Regions from separate parts of the Homo sapiens genome. Here regions 2, 3, 4 and 5 are each reported to be linked to region 1. The links are microRNA targets in miRTarBase. Many come from high-throughput screens and were not tested one by one. Region 1 holds a microRNA gene; each other region holds the end of a gene's coding sequence.
Evidence for each region. The annotated mature microRNA hsa-miR-4727-5p reads AUCUGCCAGCUUCCACAGUGG and lies in region 1 at 2,007-2,027, shown strand. An mRNA with a match to its seed (bases 2 to 7 or 8) in the 3' UTR can be bound and repressed. Matches are read on the target gene's strand: a 7mer-m8 pairs with bases 2 to 8, a 7mer-A1 pairs with bases 2 to 7 and ends in A, and an 8mer does both.

Region 1 (4,176 bases):
GGAGACGGGTGTTAGTGGATAGCTCCAGTCTAGTGGCTAGAGGCCAGTGATGCTGCTAAACATTCTACAATGCACAGGACAGCCCAACTACCACCACTACCACACACCCCCAAAGAATTATCTAGGCCAAACTGTCAAGAGCGCTAATGTTGAGAAACCCTGGATTAGAGCTTTCCTGTCCTTAAATGCAGTTATGTGAAGAATACACTAAATTGGATGAAACTAGATGGAGTCCTGGCACTCACTGTGATTGAGAACACATGACAAACTAATAGGTTTACTGGGCAGGCGGCTAAGCTGATCTACTTGCTGGTTCAATTAGCTCCACTTTCCGGAGGCTAGCATTTTCCCAACCTTGCCCCATGCTCTTGTGGGTACATTTACCCTATTTGGGGCCTTAGCGCTTTACAAATGAACGTTTCAGTTTAAGAGACATTGCCACATAACTTATATTAAGTGGTATGAATTCAAAAGCAAGCTCTGCCACTACAGATCAGAATCCAGCACTGAAGGAGGTGTGGAAGTCAGAAAGATGGACAGGAAGATCCCTTCAGGCTTAAAAAGGACCCCAGGGCCGGGCGCTGTGGCTAACCCTTGTAATCCTAGCACTCTGGGAGGCCGAGGCGGGCGGATCACTTGAGGTCGGCAGATCGAGACCAGCCTGACCAACATGGAGAAACCCTGTCTCTACTAAAAATACAAAATTAGCCGGGTGTGGTGGCGCATGCCTGTAATCCCAGCTACTCGGGAGGCTGAGGCAGGAGAATCGCTTGAACCCAGGAGGGAAAGGTTGCGGTCAGCCGAGATCGCGCCATGGCACTCCAGCCTGGGCAACAAGAAACTCCGTCTCAAAAAAATAAAAAATAAAAAACGACCCCAGGGCATGGCTTAGGGTAGGGAGAATGGGGCACAAACCACCCCTACTTCAGTCCAGGACATGACTCTGAACTCTCACCCAAGGAAGAGAGGTGTGTGGCAAGACAAGATATACAAAACAAAGTGTGGTGACACGTCCTCCATATCTACCTCCTTTCCTAGCCATGGCTCCATCCGCCCCCTCCCCGGTCTTCCCAGAATTTACAGCCGGTAGAGCCGCAGTCAACAAACACGCAAACACCACCTGTCACTGTTCGCGACACACCTCGGACTTTCCCAAATCTCAGTCCCACCCCTCCATTGCCCTAAGGATCCATCCCCTCTTCAGGGCAACGGCCTCCTCCCGGCGAAAGCAAAGCTGCGTTGCCATGGTTATCCACTCCTTCCTCTACCCCCACCCCCTGCCAATTTCCGTCCCGGCCTCAGTCCTCCCCCGCCCAGGCCTCCCTCCACTCACCAGGTCTCCGCCCCCCATGACGGTGGAGACGATTCCTCACTACGCGGATCTGGAAGATTTCGGGAGGATCAAGAGAAAACGTAGAGAAATAGTTCGGGGGCTACCTCGCGGGATCTAGTCCCAGGAGCCGTCAACTGCCAGTTTCACCACCGCTCTAGAGGTCACTTCCGGGAGGGCGTCATCTCACCGCGTCGGCGTCGCGGAACGATGACGTACAGGGCTCGGTCGCGCTTTGTGACGTTGGCGTTACTTGCAGATTTTGCAAAGGTCCGGGCTCCGCTGTCGAGGCCTTTGCTGTCGAGGTCTCATTTTGGCTGCTTCGGGTCGCCACGTTGCCTGATGTCCCAGACTCTCTGTTGAAACGCCACAACTCTGTTCAGTGATGGGTTGCCGTGGGCCTGTGCCCACGGCTGTGTTGCCATGGCAGCTCACCAGGGCATTCGGCTCAAAGCTCCACGTAGTCTCTGCTAGACCTAAGGTGGACCAGACTAGGCCTCCTCCCCTCACCCTGCACACACCCCCACGCTCCAGTTTTCCAAAACGGCTTTGCAAACTGGCGCTTTCCTCAGACCTTGACTCACAGCAAATCCCCTTATGCCAGGCCTATTTTACGAAGCTAAATAGAAACCATCAAATCGAAATTCCATCAGCTTCCGTTTGCCAAACTTTTAAAATCTGCCAGCTTCCACAGTGGCAGATTTTCCCATAGTGGGAAGCTGGCAGATTCCTTTCCCTTCAGTTACTATGTGTTTTTGGCATGTTTTTCTTTTTTCTTTTTCTTTTTCTTCTTCTCCCTTTGTTTTTGTTTTTTGAGAAGGAGTTTTGCTCTCCCAGGCTGCGGTCGAAGCTGACTGCAACCTCCGCCTCCCGGACAGCAATTCTCCTGCCTCAGCCTCCCAAGTCGCTGGGATTACAGGCGCCCGCCACCCGCCCGGCTAATTTTTGTATTTTTTGTAGAGACAGGGTTTCACCATGTTGCTCAGGCTTGTCTCGAATTTCGACCTCAAGTGATCTCCCCGCCTCAGCCTCCCAAAGTGTTGGGATTACAGACATAAGCCACCGCGCCTGGCTATTTTTATTTTTGTAGCAACAGGGTTTTGCCATCTTACCCAGGCTTGTCTCAAACTCCTGGACTCAAGCAATCCTCCTACCTCGGCCTCCTAAAGTGCTGGGATTACAGGTGTGAGCCACTGCGCCCGACCTGTTTTGTAATTTTCAGAATAGAAGTTTTGCACATCTTTTGTTAAATTTATTCTAAATGTTGTATTTTTTGTGATGCTATTTTATTTATTTATTTATTTATTTATTTATTTATTTATTTATTTATTTATTTATTTATTTCGAGACGGAATCTCACTCTGTTGCCCAGGCTGGAGTACAGTGGCGCAATACCAGCTCACTGCAACCTCCGCCTCCTGGGTTCAAGCGATTCTCCTGCCTCAGCCTCCCGAGTAGCTGGGATTACAGGCATACGCCACCACGACCTACTGATTTTTGTGTTTGTAGTAAAGATGGGATTTCACCGTGTTGGCCAGGCTGGTCTGGAACCCCTGACCTCAGGTGATCCGCCTACCTTGGCCTCCCAAAATGCAAGGATTACAGGCACCCGGCCTGTGATGCTATTTTAAATAAAATTTAAAAATTTTAATTTTCCAATTGTTTGCTACTAATAGATAAGAACGTGCTTTTGTATAGTAACCTTCTATTTTACAGGCTTGCTAAATTCACTTATTAGTTCTTATGGCTTTTTAAAAATACTTATTGCCCGGGCGCGGTGGCTCACTCCTGTAATCCCAGCACTTTGGGAGGCCGAGGCAGGTGGGTGGATCACCTGATGTTGGGAGTTTGAGACCAGCCTGGCCAACATGGAAAAACCCCATCCTACTAAAAATACAAAAATTAGCCGGGCGTGGTGGCGGGTGCCTGTAATCCCAGCTACTTGGGAGGCTGACACAAGAGAATCACTTGACCCTAGGAGGTGGAGGTTGCTGTGAGCCAAGATGGCACCACTGCACTATAGCCTGGGCGACAAGAGTGAGACTTTGTCTCAAAAAAAACAGAAAGAAAGAAAGAAACAGGCTGGGCTCGGTGGCTCACGCGTGTAATCCCAGCACTTTTGGGAGGCTGAGGCGGGCAGATCATCTGAGGTTGGGAGTTTGAGACCAGCCTGACCAACATAGAGAAACCCCGTCTCTACTAAAAATACAAAATTAGCCGGGCGTGGTGGCACATGCCTGTAATCCCAGCTACTCTGGAGGCTGAGGCAGGAGAATCACTTGAACCCAGGAGGCAGAGGTTGTGGTGAGCCAAGATAGCGCCATTGCACTCCAGCCTGGGCAACAAGAGCAAAACTCTGTCTCAGAAAAAAAAAAAAAGAAAAGAAACAAACAAAATACCTATTAAATATTTACTTAAATGTATTTGAATAAAGTTTACTTAAAAGAAAAGCAGGCTCACTGCTGTAGTCCCAGCACTTTGGGAGGCCGAGGCAGGTGGATCACTTGAGCCCAGGAGTTGGAGACCAGCCTGGGTAACGTGGTAGAACCCTGTTTCTCAAAAAATACAAAAATTAGCAGGACATAGTGGCATGTGCCTGTAGTCCCAGCTACTCAGGAGGCTGAGGTGAGAGACTGCCTGAGCCCAGGAGGCAGAGGTTGCAGTGATCCAAGATCATACCACTGCACTCCAGCCTGGGCAACAGAGCGAGACCCTGTTTCAAAAAATAAAAGAGGGCCGGGCGCAGTGGCTCACGCCTGTAATCCCAGCACTTTGAGAGGCCAAGACAGGTGGATCACCTGAGGTCAGGAATCCAAGACCAGTCTGGCCAACATGGCGAAACCCCG
Region 2 (4,176 bases), not on the chromosome of region 1:
ATAAAATATTCCAAGCTTTTGTAAAATACAAGTTTCTTCATACACCCTAAGGAAAAAGCATTTACTGGCCTTTCATAAAATAGGTAAATTATCCTTTCTCTGAGCCTCTGCTTTGTAGAATAATGCTCCAGCAATCGTCATAACCCCATATCCACCCATATTGTCCTTTCAAGGTCACACTTTCAGGCACTGCCATGAGAATGGAGAGGAGAGGGAAGAAGCTACTTCTTCCTCTGTCTATGGGCCATAGACACCTGTCCCTGCTTCCCCACACTCAGTCATTCAGCCCTTGGGCCAGTATCAGTATACGCACTTTATCTTCATAACAGTGAACTAAAATAAGAAATAAAAATAGCAGGAAAAGATCTCTGTTGGGCACTGATGTAAATGACAGCTAATGTGTTCCTGCAATCCTCATTTCCTTTTTGTTTTGCCTCTGGAGACTCTTTTTCTCCATCTGCCAGGTGGGAACATCATCTTCAGGATGATGGAAAAGGCAGAAGTAATGTGGGTGACTGATAATTTAACAACAGGCAGATTGCAAGGATGACCCAGTATATTAAAAACCAGCTCACCAAGCATAAGGGTATGTGACTTACTTTACAGAAGACACTTTGCTTTGTAAGCTCTTGTACAGAGGGGGAGATTTTATTTTCACTTCTTTAAGGAAGAGCTTCTTTCCTTGTTTTCTCCCAAGACTAGGAATGCTGGATCTGGGCGGGGTAGGTATTGCAGCAGTGTGCAGAGTCTCAGACCATGGTGATGGAAGAGTTGATGTCCTCAGCACATAAAGAGGAGGATTCCTCACAATAGGAATCTCAACGGACTGCCAGCAATTGCATAGCCAGCTGGTCAGGCTCAGGTTGAGGTACTTGGCTTAACAAGCAAAGTCACTTAATAATGTTAGAAAAGAACCTTGGGTTAAACCCTGGAAAAGTGAGCTTGCAGGTCTGGGTCTGTTTCCTTATTCAGCAATGGGCAGTAAGAACATAGAGTGATGTCACTCAGCACATGCCTGGCCCATAACTGTCTTCTTTGATGCCTGTTTTTTTCTGTTTGTAGGGCCAAGGAGATCTGTTGAAGAATGCCAAGAATGAAGCTATAGAAAACATGAAGCAGATCCAGCTGGCATGCCTGTCCTGTGGACTGAGTAAAGCCCCCAGCAGCAGTGCTGAGGCCAAGAGCAAGCGCAGCCTGGAAGCCATAGAGGAGAAGGAAAGTAGTGAGGAGAATGGGAAGCTGTGACTCTGGGCATTATCGACACGTTCACCCATCTTATCAAGGACTCTGGTTTCTCATTCTTGTTTTCTTTCTTTAAATGTTTTATAAGTTCACAAAATGGTGCCCTATATGGGGTATTGGACATAGATATTTTCACAATGTCAGTATTTCAGTGTAGTTAATTTATCTAAATTAAAGCCTTTAGTATCAGTGTTTTAAATTCTGAGACATGTGTCAACACCCCTGTGTGGATGCCTGTGGAAGAGTGTGTGTGTGTGTGTGTGTGTGTGTGTGTGGCAGAGAGAGAGAAAGAGAGAGAGAGAGAGAAATTCTGTTAAAATCTATTCTGTGTTGCATTATTCATTTAGTGAGTTATTCCTTGATCATTTTGGGACAATTGTTTTAATCTGAAATTCTAAAGAGCACTTACTGTAACCTGTTGCTGTGTTTAATTTGACTTCTCTGCCTTTGACATTTAATTTAGTGATCTTAGCATAGCTTATTATTGAAGGAAGCCAAATTTATCAAAGCATAGATGTTTTGGTAGATTAAATATAGATTAGAAAAATTCCTAAGAATCAGAGTAGAAATAAAAGTGAATGAAAGATTAAACAGATGATGAGAATTTCTAAAAAGATTAGCAAGGTCATTTCTTCAGTCAGAAAACTTTAAAAAATATTTATTAAATAAAATCAATTTTTAGGAAGTTTTCTGTAGTCATTTACTAAACATATGATTTCACTAGAAAAGCTGATCATAAGTGAATTTATACCTACCTGTGTGGTACTCTGAAACACACTGAAAGCTCTGTTGCAATTAGGATTTTGATGTGACAATAATATTGTTGTATAATTTCGAGATTTGTAGGAAGGTCTCATTCTTCCAAGCTGAGAGTCTAGCACTCATTTTCTATAACAGATATGGCAGCTTAGAGGTGTTGGCTTTGTTTGGATGTAATTTAGGGTACTAAATTTAAATTTAAAGATATTGTTCAAACAATATCATATCATCACATTGAGCTGATATAAATTCTGTGGGTCCGATAATATCTTTGTGATAATTTAAGAGCTAACCAGTTACCACACATCTATGATATAACCCTAACACACACAGAAAAGCATACATGCAAAAAGAAATGACTAATTAGGGTACATTTATAATTGCATCTAGGTAATTTTTACCCTAATGTCTTCATAAAGTACTTGAGTGTAATGTTTGTTACCTCCAACAGAACTAAATGTTCTATGGTTATGAAAGAATATATTTATTTAAAGCATTGCTTTTATTTTGAAAAGCTTCTTAATTAATTTGATTAACAAATATGCTAATTTGGGGAAACCTAGAGAAGATAATTGTTGAAATTTTGCAAATATAAACATCTCCTATAGCTTCTGTGTTATTTCTGACTTCTTAACACTATTATGTTTATGTTGCACATTACTGAAAGAGTAAAGATATGAAAAAAACACTTATTGTTTTCTTTTATTGTGAATTGAAAAAGCAAAGCTAATGAAAATGGGTTACTACATCAAAAATATCTTAAAGAGTTTGCTATTTCCATGGACCAGATATGATGAAATTATTCCCTGGGTTTAAAACTGGGCACTCGAGGAGGAGGTACCTGAAGTCATTTGAAGGCAAGTTTCCAATGATGCTACAATGGCCTGAAAAAATTTCTTTACCCTCTGTTATATTTAACTTGCTGGTAGGAGGAATAGTGGAATGCAGGTGTTAAGCCCTTTGTGGTGAAAAAGAGGTTCTATAGACAGAAACAAAACCCACCTTACATCAGCTGATTGGTTGATTTTACTAGTGTACCTCTTCATCTACTTGAATTCTATTTGGTAAATCCATGTCTTTACTGGATATACAGTTAGGTGGGAAGAGGAGATAAAGGATGACAAACTCTCAAACAATATTTATACATTTATTTACTCCAGGGTCAAATCCAATCCTTGGAAGTAGCTTCTCTAGTTTATTTTATTTGTCCCAGAGCTCTACTCACACTTAGGACCCACCCAAAAATTCTCAAAAACGTAATATGGATTCTGCCTCATCTGATGCTATTTCTGGCAGTGGGTTGTCAGCCATACTCTGCTTCATTCCACTGGGTGTCCTTGCTAGATGGGGAGTGAGATGTGGAGCAGGGAGGAGCTTTGGATTCTGGGAGTGGAGGTGGCAAGGGAAAAGTCTCCTAGTCTCCTGTGATGTTCCTGCCTCCAGATAGAATAGCAAAAACAAACAATTTTTTTTTGTGTATTATGCCTCCATGACATTGTTACATTCTATGAGGAGCATCTGTCTCCTTTCTAGACTTGAACTGTGGTAGAAAAAGCCCCCTTCTCTCTTCTATCTACTTAGATTTGGTGATGCTAGGAATGTAGTGTTTTAGATATTAATTCTATTTTTATTTATTCATTTTTACATCACCAATAGGATCTGAGGTGGAGATGGCGGGTATTATCACTGGCATTTTACAGGTGAGAAAGCCCAAAGCCACTGAGGTAATTAATGGAATAATTGATTTTGAACTTGGGTCTGTCTGATTTCATGTGCAAGATTATATACTTAGTGATTTTGATTTTAAGTTTATTCTTAACATTTTAAACCAGACTATTAACTCTTACCTTTATAACCACAGATACAAAGAACTGTATCATTTATTTTCTGAATATAAAATATTAATGGTCAATATAAAAATACAAAAATAGAGAACTATATACAACAGAAAAGCAAAATTACCCACTAATAACATTTTGATTTATATCCCTTTAGACACTGTTTAGAGTTTATACATATATGTAAATATGCTTGTATTTTAACAAAATTGAGATATTATATAAACTGTTTGTAGCAGGGTGTTTAAAATTTTAACAATATGTTATGGATATCTTTCTGTGTCAATAAATGTGTATTTACATTAGAGTTCCAAGCATTTGAACTGAATCTAGTCCA
Region 3 (4,176 bases), not on the chromosome of region 1:
AAACCCCAGCTTTATTTTTCTGTAACAGAATGCACATAAAATAGGTAAAGCACATACAGGAGGTAAAGTTACGCTCATTTTGAAAGCAAAGGAATGTCAAGGGTCTTAATGGCTGAGATTAAGATTTTGAATATGTGGAAATAATAATAGATTGAAAATGCAGTTGACCACCAGTTTATGGAAAGGAAAATACATATTTTGGTGGTTCTGTTTAGGGTTAGAGTCTGGGAAGATAAATATATACTCAAAACTAATTGTTTTGTAACAAAAGGCAAAGGGCAGTATTTGATTTCTTACTAAGGTTACTGAGCTTATTTATTTTGTTTTTTCTTTAAACAGATGCTGTATATGACTTGCCTAGCTCCAGTGAAGACCAGTTGCTAGAACATGCTGAGGGACAGCCCGTGGCATGTAATGGACATTGCAAGTTCCCCTTTTCATCCAGAGCCTTTTTGAGTTTCAAGTTTGACCATAATGCTATAATGAAAATCTTGGACCTTTGATAGCAGCACATGTATTGTAAATGTCCCAGGATCAGAGACCTGTTGAATTTGAGTGGGTGTCTCCTCAAGCCTTACCTTTCTCAGGTGTTTTAAAGAAATGCAGGGAGGCAATGTTTCTGAAGACATTTTCTGTTTATAAGAGAGTAGAAAGAAACACGAGTTTGCACTGTAAATGCAGTTATAACCTTTTATACAGATTTACCTTTTCAGTGTTCAGTACAAGTTTAAGTTGCTTTCTTTGAGGGCATTTATTCTGTGTGACTGTGGGTTTTATTTTGTATTCTGGTTAAGAAAATAATGTATTGAGTTACTGTCAAGTAGCCAAGTTAATGGGAATGCTCCATCTACCTGTTACAGTGATTGCAATAATAGTATATTGGAGTTTTTCAAAGAAACTTAAAGTAATGCCCAATTATTAAATGAACACAAGAGCTGAGATGTCACATTCGTCAGCATTACAGGTGATCTATTTTGGTGGCATTTTGTACTTCTCTCTGCTTCTAACCACTGAGGCTCTCTAATCTTCCTCTGGAGTTTTAGTGAAAGGATTTATTGAGCAGCTTCTGGAATATAATGTGCATGTCCAAAATGAACTCAGCGCTTCAAAAGGACAAAGTCTGTAGCCTGGAGGGGCTTGAGTGGATGGGAGCTGATGCTGTGATTTTGAGCTGTGGTTACATGCAGTCAGTAAACCTGTGAGACTGCTGGAGGAAATGTAGCAGACAGCATGGAGGCTGGGACCCAGCAGCTACTTTGGGTCATGTCTTTACTGTCCTGCCTCCAACCCTTTAGTCTCGTAGACTTTTGTTCTTGTGGAAATTTCTTCTGTATTCCAGTTGTGTAAATATGTATGGAAAACTGATATTACTAGGTTTTACGTTGCATCTCCAGTATTGATCTTTGGAAACTGATGTTACATTAGGTTCCAATTCGCAATAGTAGCAGAGACTGACATGCTTTTATTGACCTGCTAAGCCCCTGGATGATGGAGCGAGAAGGGAAGGGGTATGCAGTTTACCCAAGTCCAAATAAAGCATTTCACTAGGTTACACGTTATGTATATGTGTTACATAACAGTAACATACATAACTCACTCCTAGGAATGTATTTTGCTTCAGGATTTTTAAATTCAAATAAGGATGGCAGTGCCCATTTTAAGGAGGATTTCAGCTATAACTGAGGACAATCACCAGGGCGTTAAGGGGGCTTTAGTGTTTTGGCTGCATCTGACCTCATTGAAGGAATTTCTTGGGAGTCGGGGGTGTTTGAGTATATGTGTGTGTGTGTAACTATCATGTGGGTTTTAAAAATCCTTTTTTACAGTGGTATCCACAAAATACTTCTCTGCTTATAAATGTTATTGTAGAAATCTTTATTCTGTGTAGGTAGCCTATTTAATTGGGTTCCACTGAACCTCATGGGACTTTTAAAAGAAGGGCTATTTAAGGAATTCACTTGGTAGTACTTTGCTTTAGCTTTTAAATGGCTTGATTTTAAAGGAGAAATTCTATTTATTAATGAAAGTGTCACCCTTTTGGTGCTAAGCAGGAGAATTCACAATTAAAGCAGTGTGTATAGAATTATGATATTCAGAATCCTGCATCTTTTAATGTGACAAATTTTTGAATCCTGTGACTTTTGCTTTTTAATGCATTATATGATTGTGTTTGGAAGCTTTTACTGTTCTTTTCAGAAATACGGCTGCTTTGCTTGGGTCTCTTCGAGCCATATTTATAGTTGGTCCCAGCATTCCAGACTTCTGGTAAATTGTTAAAGGAGTGAAAATGTAGTTTGCCTGGCAGATGAATAATTTTCACTCATTTATTGTCTTCTGGAAACCATTTAACTTTTACTGTTTTTTATTTTTTTGGTATGTGTTTTTTTTTTTCTTTTTAAGTGCATACTTTGGCCAGTCTTCCTGGTGCCTGTAGAGTTGGATTTTTCAGCTCTCAATACTGAAGCAAAAGAGATTATAGTTACCAGAAGTATGGCCTCTAATGGTGTTGAGCCTTTTCAAGAACCAACAAATTATCTTTGTGATTACAGTAGTTTAACTATGGTTAAATGTTACTGCTGTTGCGCTGCTTTATTTAATGCACTGTGGAACAAAATATAAGGGTACTGTTGGGGTGTGATTATGATAACTTCAGGCTTTTAGCTCTCCTCAAAGTTTGAGGTTAAAAAAATGTTAAAAGATGTGAGTTAAAGTTTATGTGTGTGATGTGACTTAACTATGCAGAAAATATTTAAGTTGGATGTACTTGTTTTAGGTACATCTACTATACTTATTCTCTCAAACCTGGGTAATAGTTTCTCAGTGTTCAGGTTACCTTGAGAAAGGCCATGCTTAGCGAACTGGATTTCTCCTTTGAGAAATTTTAGTATGGTTTGAGGAAATCAAGTGATAAAGGAGTATGCTGAATATGCAATCATTTACTTCTACTGAGTGCTGCATTTTAAGATGCTAGATGAGAAGAGTAGTTGGTTTTGCTTCATTATGTTTTATGTCTTTGAGAGAGATACAGGTCTTGGAATTCACTTTTTAAATGTTACGTTCCAACCTTATATGTTCCAAGGTGCAGTGCACTGTGAATCTTTTATTTTTAAAAAAATTTGTAGGTGCTTTTATGTATAACTTTAATGATTTATAAGATGCTAAATGAATTGTTTTTGTACCTAACCATTGTAATCCAAAAGATAAGGGTGTGGTTTACATGCTTTTCAAAAATTTTTGTTAAGAAGTAGCAAATGAATGGTTTAGGATTTCAAATAGTGATACCCTCCTGAGACATGAGCATTTGGAGAGGCCTGAGAACCTAATAGAACTCATATAGTGTGAGTGAAATTTGATTAAAGATGTTGGAAAATGAAGTTGGATTTTTGTATTCATGTATAAAGGAAAGTCTCCCAGTGCTGTCAAAGGAATTGTGGTTACTACTTGCTGTTCTGAGCTTTGAATATCGTTATTTTTCTATTAAATATCAATTAGTAAGTATAGCTAATGAAGACATATAATGAAAGTAATTTTATGCTGTAAGATTGAATTGGTACTTTTCCTTATTAAGGCTTTAGTAATTTGTATGTAATGTCAAATAAAAGGAATTCAAATCTGAGTAAATAACAGCCTCCTACTATAGGAATTAGATTCTTCTATAAAAGTCACCATATTGTATCCTATAGAAAAGTTAAGGTCTGAGTGCATGTGTGCATTAAAAACATTTCACTACCTATTCTCTCATGGACTTCTCATCCTTTCTTTTTTCATCTCCAACAGTTAAATGGTAAGGAGAGCAAAGTTAATTATAAAAATTAGACATTTTGCCAAGTTAGTTTTCTTACCACAATACCCTCTTGGCTTTTTTTTTTTTTTTTTTGAGATGGAGTTTCACTCCTGTTGCCCAGGCTGGAGTGCAATGGTGCAATTTCGGCTCACCGCAACCTACGCCTCCCGGGTTCAAGTGATTCTCCTGCCTCAGCCTCCCAAGTAGCTGGGATTACAGGCATGCGCCACCACGCCCTGCTAATTCTGTCTTTTTAGTAGAGACGGGGTTTCTCCATGTTGGTCAGGGTGGTCTCTCTTGGCTTTTTATCTTTATTTTTGTACCAGTGGACCTTCCTGCTCCCTGAGACTGTTTTGATTGACATCTTTTGTGTTTCTATATTTTCCGAGGCA
Region 4 (4,176 bases), not on the chromosome of region 1:
AGTTAACAGCTGTCCTCAGTTAACAGTCTTGACTTCACCGGAGTTCCCCACACCAGAATGCTCCCATGCCTTCATCTTCTTAATTAAATGTTCTCTCTTTGTATATTTCAGTGAATCTTCCAGGTATAGTGATATTCTTCTTGGGGAGAGGCATCTGGTCCTATTTTAATAGTATGGAGGGGAAGTATACACATACATGAAAAATATAGAGAAACTCCTGCACAGCTATCCCAATAACTCTGGTTGTTTTGGCATTGTTTGCTTTCATCATCATTCCAGTTACCCAACCACCTAAAATGGTGATCAGGAAAGCAATCCTATAGTTTTAATTGTCGGTGCCTAGGTAAGAGCATAGGGAAGTGTTTACTTTTGGGAAATCTGATGGTGCAAAGACCATGACCAGAGCCTGGATTGAACAAACTCAATGAAATTTTCAGGCTGCTTAATATGATTCAGTTAAGTCTTCAGTGTGAAAGAAATTTGCAGTTACATTTTTACACCTGATAAAATCAAAAGACTGAGGAGGTAAATCATCAGCAGTGTTTAGAATTTAATTCACGTTGGGCGAAATTCATAGTAAGCTAGATCATACTGACTTGGAGGGATTCTTTAACAGTGTTTTTACTTCTCCTATTCCAAAGGTTTCTTAACCTATATAAGCAATTAGATCATCTAGTATAATGCATACAGCATGCTGTATCTCCAAATGTCAGAAGAAATGTCTGAATATCTAACTTGTCTAGCCTCATTCCTTGAAATGACCCAGATTTGTGAATATAAGAAACAAGCCACAGAAATAAAACTTCTTAACTCCTGCTCCTGTCTTCACACACCATGTTTTAAGTTAAATTGGCTAAGTTCTATCAGTGAACAATTGCTAGATTTAATTTAATAACTTGACTCCCTAAAATGTCCATGTTCATTTTCCTCTAGGGAAATATTTTTAATTCAGTTGAGCAATAGTATTGATTCACTTCTAATTTTTTTTTCTCTTTGTGTTTTATTTCTTCAGATTGTTTTTTCCATTTGCATTGCTTTCTGGGGAGTTAGAAGCATGAAACAACTCACCTCTCACCCTTGGAAATAACCTGAATTTGTACATAATTCTCTTCTTTTAATGAGTTGTCCACACGCATATTATGACTGCATATTAAAATGTAATTATTTTATGTAATGCTTATATGAACTATTTCTTCAATGAAAAGTAAAATTACTTATTTACTATTGTTTGCCTTTCACATTTGTTATTTTCTATTAAAAATTAAAGTCAGTTTTGGTTACTTCCCCCCTTTACTACAATTAAAAAAAGATTTCAAATATAATGATGTTATATTAACTGATAGCCTTATATGACAAGTATAAAAAGAAGGGATGAAACTTAAAAACAGTAAAAACAAGAAGGAATATTGCCTTTACATCAATTTGAAAACAATGTTTCCTTTGATGTTTGCTAAAATTATGCATAGATACATGTTTGTAGTCATAAAAATGTATTACATTGGTTGTCTTCCTAAGGCCACAGTTACCTTTGCAATCCATATAACCTAAGAAGCTGCATTCCAGAAAAAGACATCACTGAGGCCAGGCGCGGTGGCTCACCCCTGTAATCCCAGCACTTTGTGGGGCTGAGGTGGGCGGATCATGAGGTCCAGAGATAGAGACCATCCTGGCCAACATGGTGAAGTCCTGTCTCTACTAAAAATATAAAAATTTAGCTGGACATGGTGGTGTGCGCCTGTAGTCCCAGCTACTCTGGAGGCTGAGGCAGGAGAATCGCTTGAACCTGGGAGGCAGAAGTTGGAGTGAGTGGAGATTGCACCACTGCACTCCAGCCTGGGCGACAGAGCGAGACTCCGTCTCAAAGAAAAAAGACATCACTGAAAGAAAAATGAACAGAATTTGTCAGAATTAGTTTTTTCAACAGGTTACTTTGTCATACATTTCTCTAATATGCTTGGTCAATTTGTTTTGGCAGACTGGGCAGCATGCAGCAATTCTGCATTATTTAAAGTTATCAGAACAATGTTAATTCTCTAAATAAAATTACCCAAGGTGTTGTGTGTACATTGTTCATTGGGATTGTAAAAATCCACCAAGTGTTTCGTTAGGAGGGAACTGACAGGGATAAGCAGGATGAAGTCCAAAGAATGAGAACTGGAAAAAGTTAAAAAAAAAATCTTTATTTTTCATTTATCCAATATTTCTTGAAATCAAGTTAAAATTTAATAATTTAATAATAAAATTTAATAATTTAAATAATCAAAGACACATGTACTAAAAAAAACTAATGCTGTTCTTCATTGAGCTTTGCCTATGTATCACTGGGTTAAGGAGCCTGACTTAGATAATCTCATATTAGCAATACATTATTTAATCTTTGAATGGACAAAAATATAGAGTATTAAGAGAATCAGACTGCAGGTGTCTATGTGAACTGAGGATACAGAATTGAAGCATATTTAGTTTTCAAACTGGAACAGCAGAGGAAGATTAAATTTTGCATGATGAAAAAGCAACACATTCTATCTCAAGTATCAGAAGTGGGTTTGGCTTTGCTTCATTCTTTTTATACTTCTTAATTTAACACATAGTTATAGACAATACGTAAGCCTATAACATATATTGAATCCTGCTTTTGTCCCTTAACAACAATTTTCACAGAATTTTGTATACATATACAGAATCATGTTACAGTAGGGAGCCCTCTGCTGGCTTGAAATTAGGAAATTTAAGGCATAAACATTCTCAAGACCCTGATTCTACATTCTAGAGACTTTTCAGTGGGTAAAACACATTCTTCAGTAATGGCAAAGAAAAGAGACTTTTTGCTAATCTTTACATAGTTGTTTAGTATGTCAGAAGAGCTTAATGATTCCCCAAGGAATGATACATAAATATGTGTATATGCTTTAATATATGTGAATTTATAGGATTAGCCTAAAAATGAGTTTAATAATAGAAATGTTAATAAATAATTCCCCCAAATGAGAAAAGATCCTTTTGTGGTGAAGTTCAGTTTTCTTTGAGTAAATTGAATTCTGTCTATTCTCTCTCTTCTCTCTTGGGTTTACCTCACTGTGATTGTGAATGGTTTTCTATTAGAAATACAGATATTTTCAAGATACAAATTTGTGCCAATGAAAGTGGGAGTGGTTACCAGACAGGTAATGTTCCAGACACCTCCTATACAAAAATTATAACAGTGAAAAAATTAAGACAATGAGAAATCTGACCTAACAGACTCCATCTTGCTTCTAACCTCCAAGGTGTCCTTGTTTATTCCTGGGCACAGGCTGAGCTAACTTTGGTAGGAACTTAGTTTATAGTTTGCCTTTGAAACAAAAATGATAACGGCACTTTCTTAAAACAAACCCCCTTCTTGCCTGGGGACAAGGCTGCCTTTGTGGGACTAACAAATTAGCCACAAGATTAGAAAATAGGCTTAGGAGTCATACAGCTAGAGGCTACAAGATTCGAACTCTCCCCAGTTGCTCCTAGGGATAACATCATTATTGTGAAACCTCAGATTGGTGTTGGAGATATTTTTCAGCTCCTGCACTCCATGGATCAGCTGGCACCACCCAGATGGATAAACTGACTCATCTGGTCTTGTGGCCCCCACCCAAGAACTGACTCAGCCAAGAATAGCTTCAAGGCTCTTTGATTTTTATCTCTGACCTGATCAGTGAGCACTCTCCATTCCCTGGCCCCCTACCCACCAAATTATCCTTAAAAAACCCAGTCTCCGAATTTTCAGGGAGACTGATTTGAGTAATAATAAAACTCCAGTCTCCTATTCAGCTGGCTCTGCATGAATTGAACTCTTTCTCTATTACAATTTCCCTGTCTTGATAAATCGGCTCTGTCCTGGCAGCAGGCAATGAACCCATTGGGCGATTACATTTCTAGGGCCTCTGTGCATTATTAACCAAGGCACTTTATTCTTCACTTTATTCTTTAACCCTGCTAATTTTCCAGTCCAGTTTTCTTTTGCAGAGCACTAATACATGATGACAGAACATACAGCTATTATTAATGTTGTAAATTGATCTTGAGTGATACCATGTAATGTATGCTTACTGGAAGGACTTTAACACACTCTCTCTCTGTCTCTGTCTCTCTCTCTCTCTCTCTCTCTCTCTCTCTCTCTCTCTCTCTCTCTCTCTCTCTCTCTCG
Region 5 (4,176 bases), not on the chromosome of region 1:
GCCCTGCCACAGTGCCAGCTGCTGGGTGTCTTCTCAGGCCACCGGCGTGGCCTCTGGTGCGTCCAGTTCTCTCCCATGGACCAGGTGCTGGCCACGGCCTCAGCTGATGGCACCATCAAGCTCTGGGCACTCCAGGACTTCAGCTGTCTCAAGGTAAGTGGCGCTCCAGACCCTCCCCACTTCCCGCCCTGGTGACATCTCATGCCCTACCCCCCACCTTGCAGACATTTGAGGGGCACGATGCTTCTGTGCTGAAGGTGGCCTTTGTGAGCCGTGGCACGCAGCTGCTGTCCAGGTGAGTGGGCTGGGGTGGGGCAGCGATGGAGTGGGGGGTGGCGGGGGGACCTGCCTGACGCTGAGCCTCTCCCCACCCCAAACCCAGCGGTTCGGATGGCCTCGTGAAGCTCTGGACCATCAAGAACAACGAGTGTGTGCGGACGCTGGATGCCCACGAGGACAAGGTCTGGGGGCTGCACTGCAGCCGGCTGGACGACCACGCCCTCACTGGGGCCAGTGACTCCCGAGTCATCCTCTGGAAGGTTGTGGGCCCCAAGGGCAGGGAAGAGTCGGGGTGGAGTGGAGGCCCCATCTGACCCTAGTCTAACCCCAGGATGTGACCGAGGCGGAGCAGGCAGAGGAGCAGGCCAGGCAAGAGGAGCAGGTGGTCAGGTAAGGCCAGGGCAGTGGCGCCCCTCCCCGCATCAGCCCTGCTCTGTGCTGTAGGGAAAACGAGGCTGAGTGCCAGGCTCCCTGCCTGCTGACTCCGATGGCTCTGCCTGCAGCCCCAGCCAGCGGCCCTCAGTGGCCTCTCCTCCCCTCCCCACAGGCAGCAAGAGCTGGACAACCTGCTGCATGAGAAGCGGTACCTGCGGGCGCTGGGCCTGGCCATCTCCCTGGATCGGCCCCACACCGTGCTGACTGTCATCCAGGGTCAGTGCCCACCCCGGGGGGCGAGGGGCTGGGTCTTCGGACCACTGGGCTCTGCTTTCCCCAGCTCAGCCTTCCCTTCTCCCACAGCCATCCGGAGGGACCCTGAGGCCTGCGAGAAGCTGGAAGCCACCATGCTCCGACTGCGGCGCGACCAGAAAGGTTGGCGGCCAGTCAGGGTGGGTGGCCCGGTGGGCAAGGGCCAGTCATGGCAGATTGGCTGGGCAAGACGATGAGGGTCCTGTTGCCCACAGAGGCCCTGCTGCGCTTCTGCGTCACGTGGAACACCAACTCGCGGCACTGCCACGAGGCCCAGGCCGTGCTGGGTGTGCTCTTGAGGCGAGAGGCCCCCGAGGAGCTGCTGGCCTACGAAGGCGTGCGGGCAGCGCTTGAGGCCCTGCTGCCCTACACTGGTATGTGGGCACAGCCTGGGGTTGGGGGATCCTGGTGGGCGTGTGGACCACCCCCCTGACCTCCCTCTGTCCAACCCCAGAGCGGCACTTTCAGCGGCTCAGCAGGACCCTCCAGGCCGCCGCTTTCTTGGACTTCCTGTGGCACAACATGAAGCTCCCTGTGCCGGCCGCCGCCCCCACCCCCTGGGAAACCCATAAAGGCGCACTGCCCTAGCCGGTCCGGCCTCTCTCCAGTCCATCCTGAACCCCTGGAAAACCCATAAAGGCCGCTCTCCTGGCCGGCTCTGTCTCTCTGGACTGCAGTCCAGCCCCCCACCCTGGCCAACACCCTACCTAGCCAGCCAGAAGGGCACTGGAGCTGATGGTCTCGGCCCTGCCACGCCCATCCCGCACCCTGGCCTGGCAGAGATCCAGCCCGCGGCTCCGCACGCTTAGACGGTGGGGGTCATGCAGAACAAGCTTTACTCAGAGGAACAGCAAATGGCCCCCTCCCATCCCTGCTGGCCAGGGAGATCCGCCCTCCCCGCTCCTCCCCAGCCCTGGGATGGCGCGGTCCATCCCCTCATCGGGATCCTCGCGCTCACTGCTCCGTCGTGGGGTGCGGCACAGAGTCCACGCACCCTCGAGGGCGGCCCTGGCGCCGTGGGCGCCGCTCCAGGGCCCTGCGTGTGACGGTGCAGCAGCGGCTCTGGATGGCGCCCGGCGAAGGTCGGGTGGGCACGGTGGGGGGAGGGGCGGTGGCCTGGGAGGGTTCAGGGAAGCCCCGGGCCTCACCCGCCGGGTCGTCTCCTCCACGGAACCCCGTCCCGCTCAGGAGAGCGCCCAGCCCTTCCGGCCGCAGCAGCACCGCGGGGAGTAGGCCCGCCCGGTCGCCGTACCTGCGAGGGGCGGGGTGTGGTTAGGGCCCCGCCCGCCTCGGCTAGCCTGCCCTGCCCACGCCCGCTCCCGCGTACCTGCATAGCCACCAGCCGCGGTCTGACGTTTCCAACACGCGCACGCGCGCCCCCGCGGGCACGGACAGCTCATCTGCGCGGCTGCTCTCGTAGGCGCGGGAAGCACAGAACTGGGGACCTGGTGGGAGTGGGTGTTTGGAGTCACCGCGGGGCCACAGAGGACGAGGCCCGCCCGCACCCTTCTCCACATTCTCCTTGCTTGAGTCTGCTGACGGCGGGGCCGCTCTAAGACCGGTTCGGGGCTTCCTCTAGGTGCGGAGACCAAGCACGGGCTCCTGGCCCGCCCTGCCCGCGGTGCTTCTGGCCCAGTCTTGCCACACGGTCAAGCCGCAGTGGTGGCGTGAGGGGTGGGGTTAGGCGCATACCGCTGCTCCCTAGGGACGGGCCTCCCTCCCGGCCTTGGCCCGGGGCCGCCTCCTCCAGGTAGGGCGCTGGAAACCAGGCGGTCTGCCGGTCTTCGTTCTCCACCAGCCACCAGCCTGTGCGCAAGAAGCGGGCAGGGACTCAAATCTCGAGGCTCCCTCGGGTCCAGGAGCAGAGGAGCAAATCCCTGGGTTCTTGGGGGGCCCTACCTGAGGGGTGCCGCAGCAGCACGTCCAGGCTCTCCTGGGCCTGCGCCTGAAAAGGCCTATCCCGCGTGTCCTGGGTACAGAAGGGCTGCAGGCAGCGCAGGCTCTGAGCCTCCAGACTGTGGATGGAGAGGCGGCCCGCAGCGCGAGAAAGAGGCTGCTCCTCTGGGGTGGGCAGGATCACCCGGCTGGGAAGGGCAGCCCGTACGAGTGAGAGGTAGGCGGATGGGGAGGGTGAAACTGGGGGCGCCACCCCGGCAAGACCGCCAGCCTCCCACTCTCTGCCCCTATTCGCTGGCTGTTCCCCCCCACCCTGGACCTCTCCCAGCTCCAAACGCCGCTGCATGCTGGGAGTTTGGGGCGAGTCAGGCACCTGCCGGGTGGCAGCGCGGGCTCCAGGTCCAGGGGTTGCGGTGCGAAGAAGCCAGTGATCGTCGGGCTCCGTGCCACGCGCTCTGCAGTCGCCAGCAGCCTCCGAGAATAGGTTTCCAACAGCTGCAGGCGCGCCAGGCCGCGGCTCGTGCGCCCCACGCGTCCCAACAGTGGTGCATCTTAAGGCACCACAAAAACGTACTGTGATACGCCGCTTTGGGCTTCACTGGTCCCTGGCGCCCCCAGGCAAGCCACCGCCTTCCCCGCTCCCGTACCCAGGCTGGCCTGACCGAGAAGCTTTGGGAGAACGCGGTCAGATCTCCGCAGCAGGCCCGCCTCCACCGGGAAGGTCTCCTTGAGGGTCTTCTGAGGGCGGGAACCAGGGCATTGGTCTTCCAGAGCCCACTGTGCACCCTTGAGAGGGCGGGGTCCCTCACCCGGATGGCAGGGGCTGGGAGCTTCAGCAGGGACGAAGGGCCTCCAGTGGGAGTCACTGATGGGAGGCAGTCCAGTGGGAGGCAGCCGCGTGGGGAAGCCGCCACCGCGGCATCAGGGTGGCCCAGGGTCACTCACCTTGAGCTGCCTGAATTCGTCCCAACTCCTGCGCACGAAGGTGTCGCTGCCGTCTGACCAGCGCACAGAGAAGGCAAACGTCTGGGGGACAAAAAGTTGGGAGTGCCGTGGAGGTGCTGGTCCAGGCACCCCCTTCCTATCCCTTGGGGCCACTAAGGACCCAGCCAGGTCTTACTTGGAGCCTCTTGATCTGCACCAGGGCTGCCCCTTGCACTGAAACTGGGTATCGGGGGCCTGCCATGGCTGTGGCTTCCAGGCTGCAGATTCCTGAAATGGGCGAGGACCCTTCTGCCTCCCCGTGCTTGAGAGGGCTCTGGGGGACCCAGAAAACCCCCTGGGATAGAATCCTGGCAACACCTCAAGCCTGTG

Region 2: the mRNA of PLCL1 is a reported target of hsa-miR-4727-5p. Seed matches in the 3' UTR shown: 7mer-m8 at 1,516-1,522.
Region 3: the mRNA of DCP2 is a reported target of hsa-miR-4727-5p. Seed matches in the 3' UTR shown: 7mer-m8 at 2,300-2,306.
Region 4: the mRNA of AGMO is a reported target of hsa-miR-4727-5p. Seed matches in the 3' UTR shown: 7mer-A1 at 1,790-1,796 and 7mer-m8 at 1,970-1,976.
Region 5: miRTarBase lists TBL3 as a target of hsa-miR-4727-5p. Seed matches in the 3' UTR shown: 7mer-m8 at 1,741-1,747.

What each region holds. Positions count from the first base shown.
Region 1 is chr17:38,823,833-38,828,008 of GRCh38, forward strand. MIR4727 (microRNA 4727) reads left to right here and starts at 2,006; the gene lies at 2,006-2,060. It overlaps CWC25 (CWC25 spliceosome associated protein), which reads right to left and starts at 1,489. Exons shown (of 10, transcript NM_017748.5): 1 at 1,334-1,489. The coding sequence starts at 1,351. RefSeq lists an enhancer at 197-828.
Region 2 is chr2:198,145,718-198,149,893 of GRCh38, forward strand. PLCL1 (phospholipase C like 1 (inactive)) reads left to right here. Exons shown (of 6, transcript NM_006226.4): 6 at 1,063-4,146. The coding sequence ends at 1,245. Among named protein-coding and RNA genes, the nearest start is that of LINC01923, 230 kb to the right of the region's middle.
Region 3 is chr5:113,012,982-113,017,157 of GRCh38, forward strand. DCP2 (decapping mRNA 2) reads left to right here. Exons shown (of 11, transcript NM_152624.6): 11 at 340-4,176. The coding sequence ends at 503. Among named protein-coding and RNA genes, the nearest start is that of DCP2, 38 kb to the left of the region's middle.
Region 4 is chr7:15,198,196-15,202,371 of GRCh38, reverse strand. AGMO (alkylglycerol monooxygenase) reads left to right here. Exons shown (of 13, transcript NM_001004320.2): 13 at 1,013-2,055. The coding sequence ends at 1,087. Among named protein-coding and RNA genes, the nearest start is that of DGKB, 300 kb to the right of the region's middle.
Region 5 is chr16:1,977,132-1,981,307 of GRCh38, forward strand. TBL3 (transducin beta like 3) reads left to right here. Exons shown (of 22, transcript NM_006453.3): 15 at 1-153; 16 at 225-295; 17 at 383-539; 18 at 611-669; 19 at 827-930; 20 at 1,018-1,089; 21 at 1,182-1,340; 22 at 1,421-4,176. The coding sequence ends at 1,554. NOXO1 (NADPH oxidase organizer 1) reads right to left here. Exons shown (of 8, transcript NM_172167.3): 1 at 3,983-4,176; 2 at 3,808-3,888; 3 at 3,525-3,600; 4 at 3,236-3,413; 5 at 2,866-3,050; 6 at 2,659-2,772; 7 at 2,294-2,411; 8 at 1,786-2,218. The coding sequence starts at 4,048. The coding sequence ends at 1,921. Among named protein-coding and RNA genes, the nearest start is that of NOXO1, 2.2 kb to the right of the region's middle. RefSeq lists enhancers at 881-1,460, 1,461-2,040, 2,041-2,620, 2,621-3,198, 3,199-3,778 and silencers at 2,185-2,304, 3,097-3,391.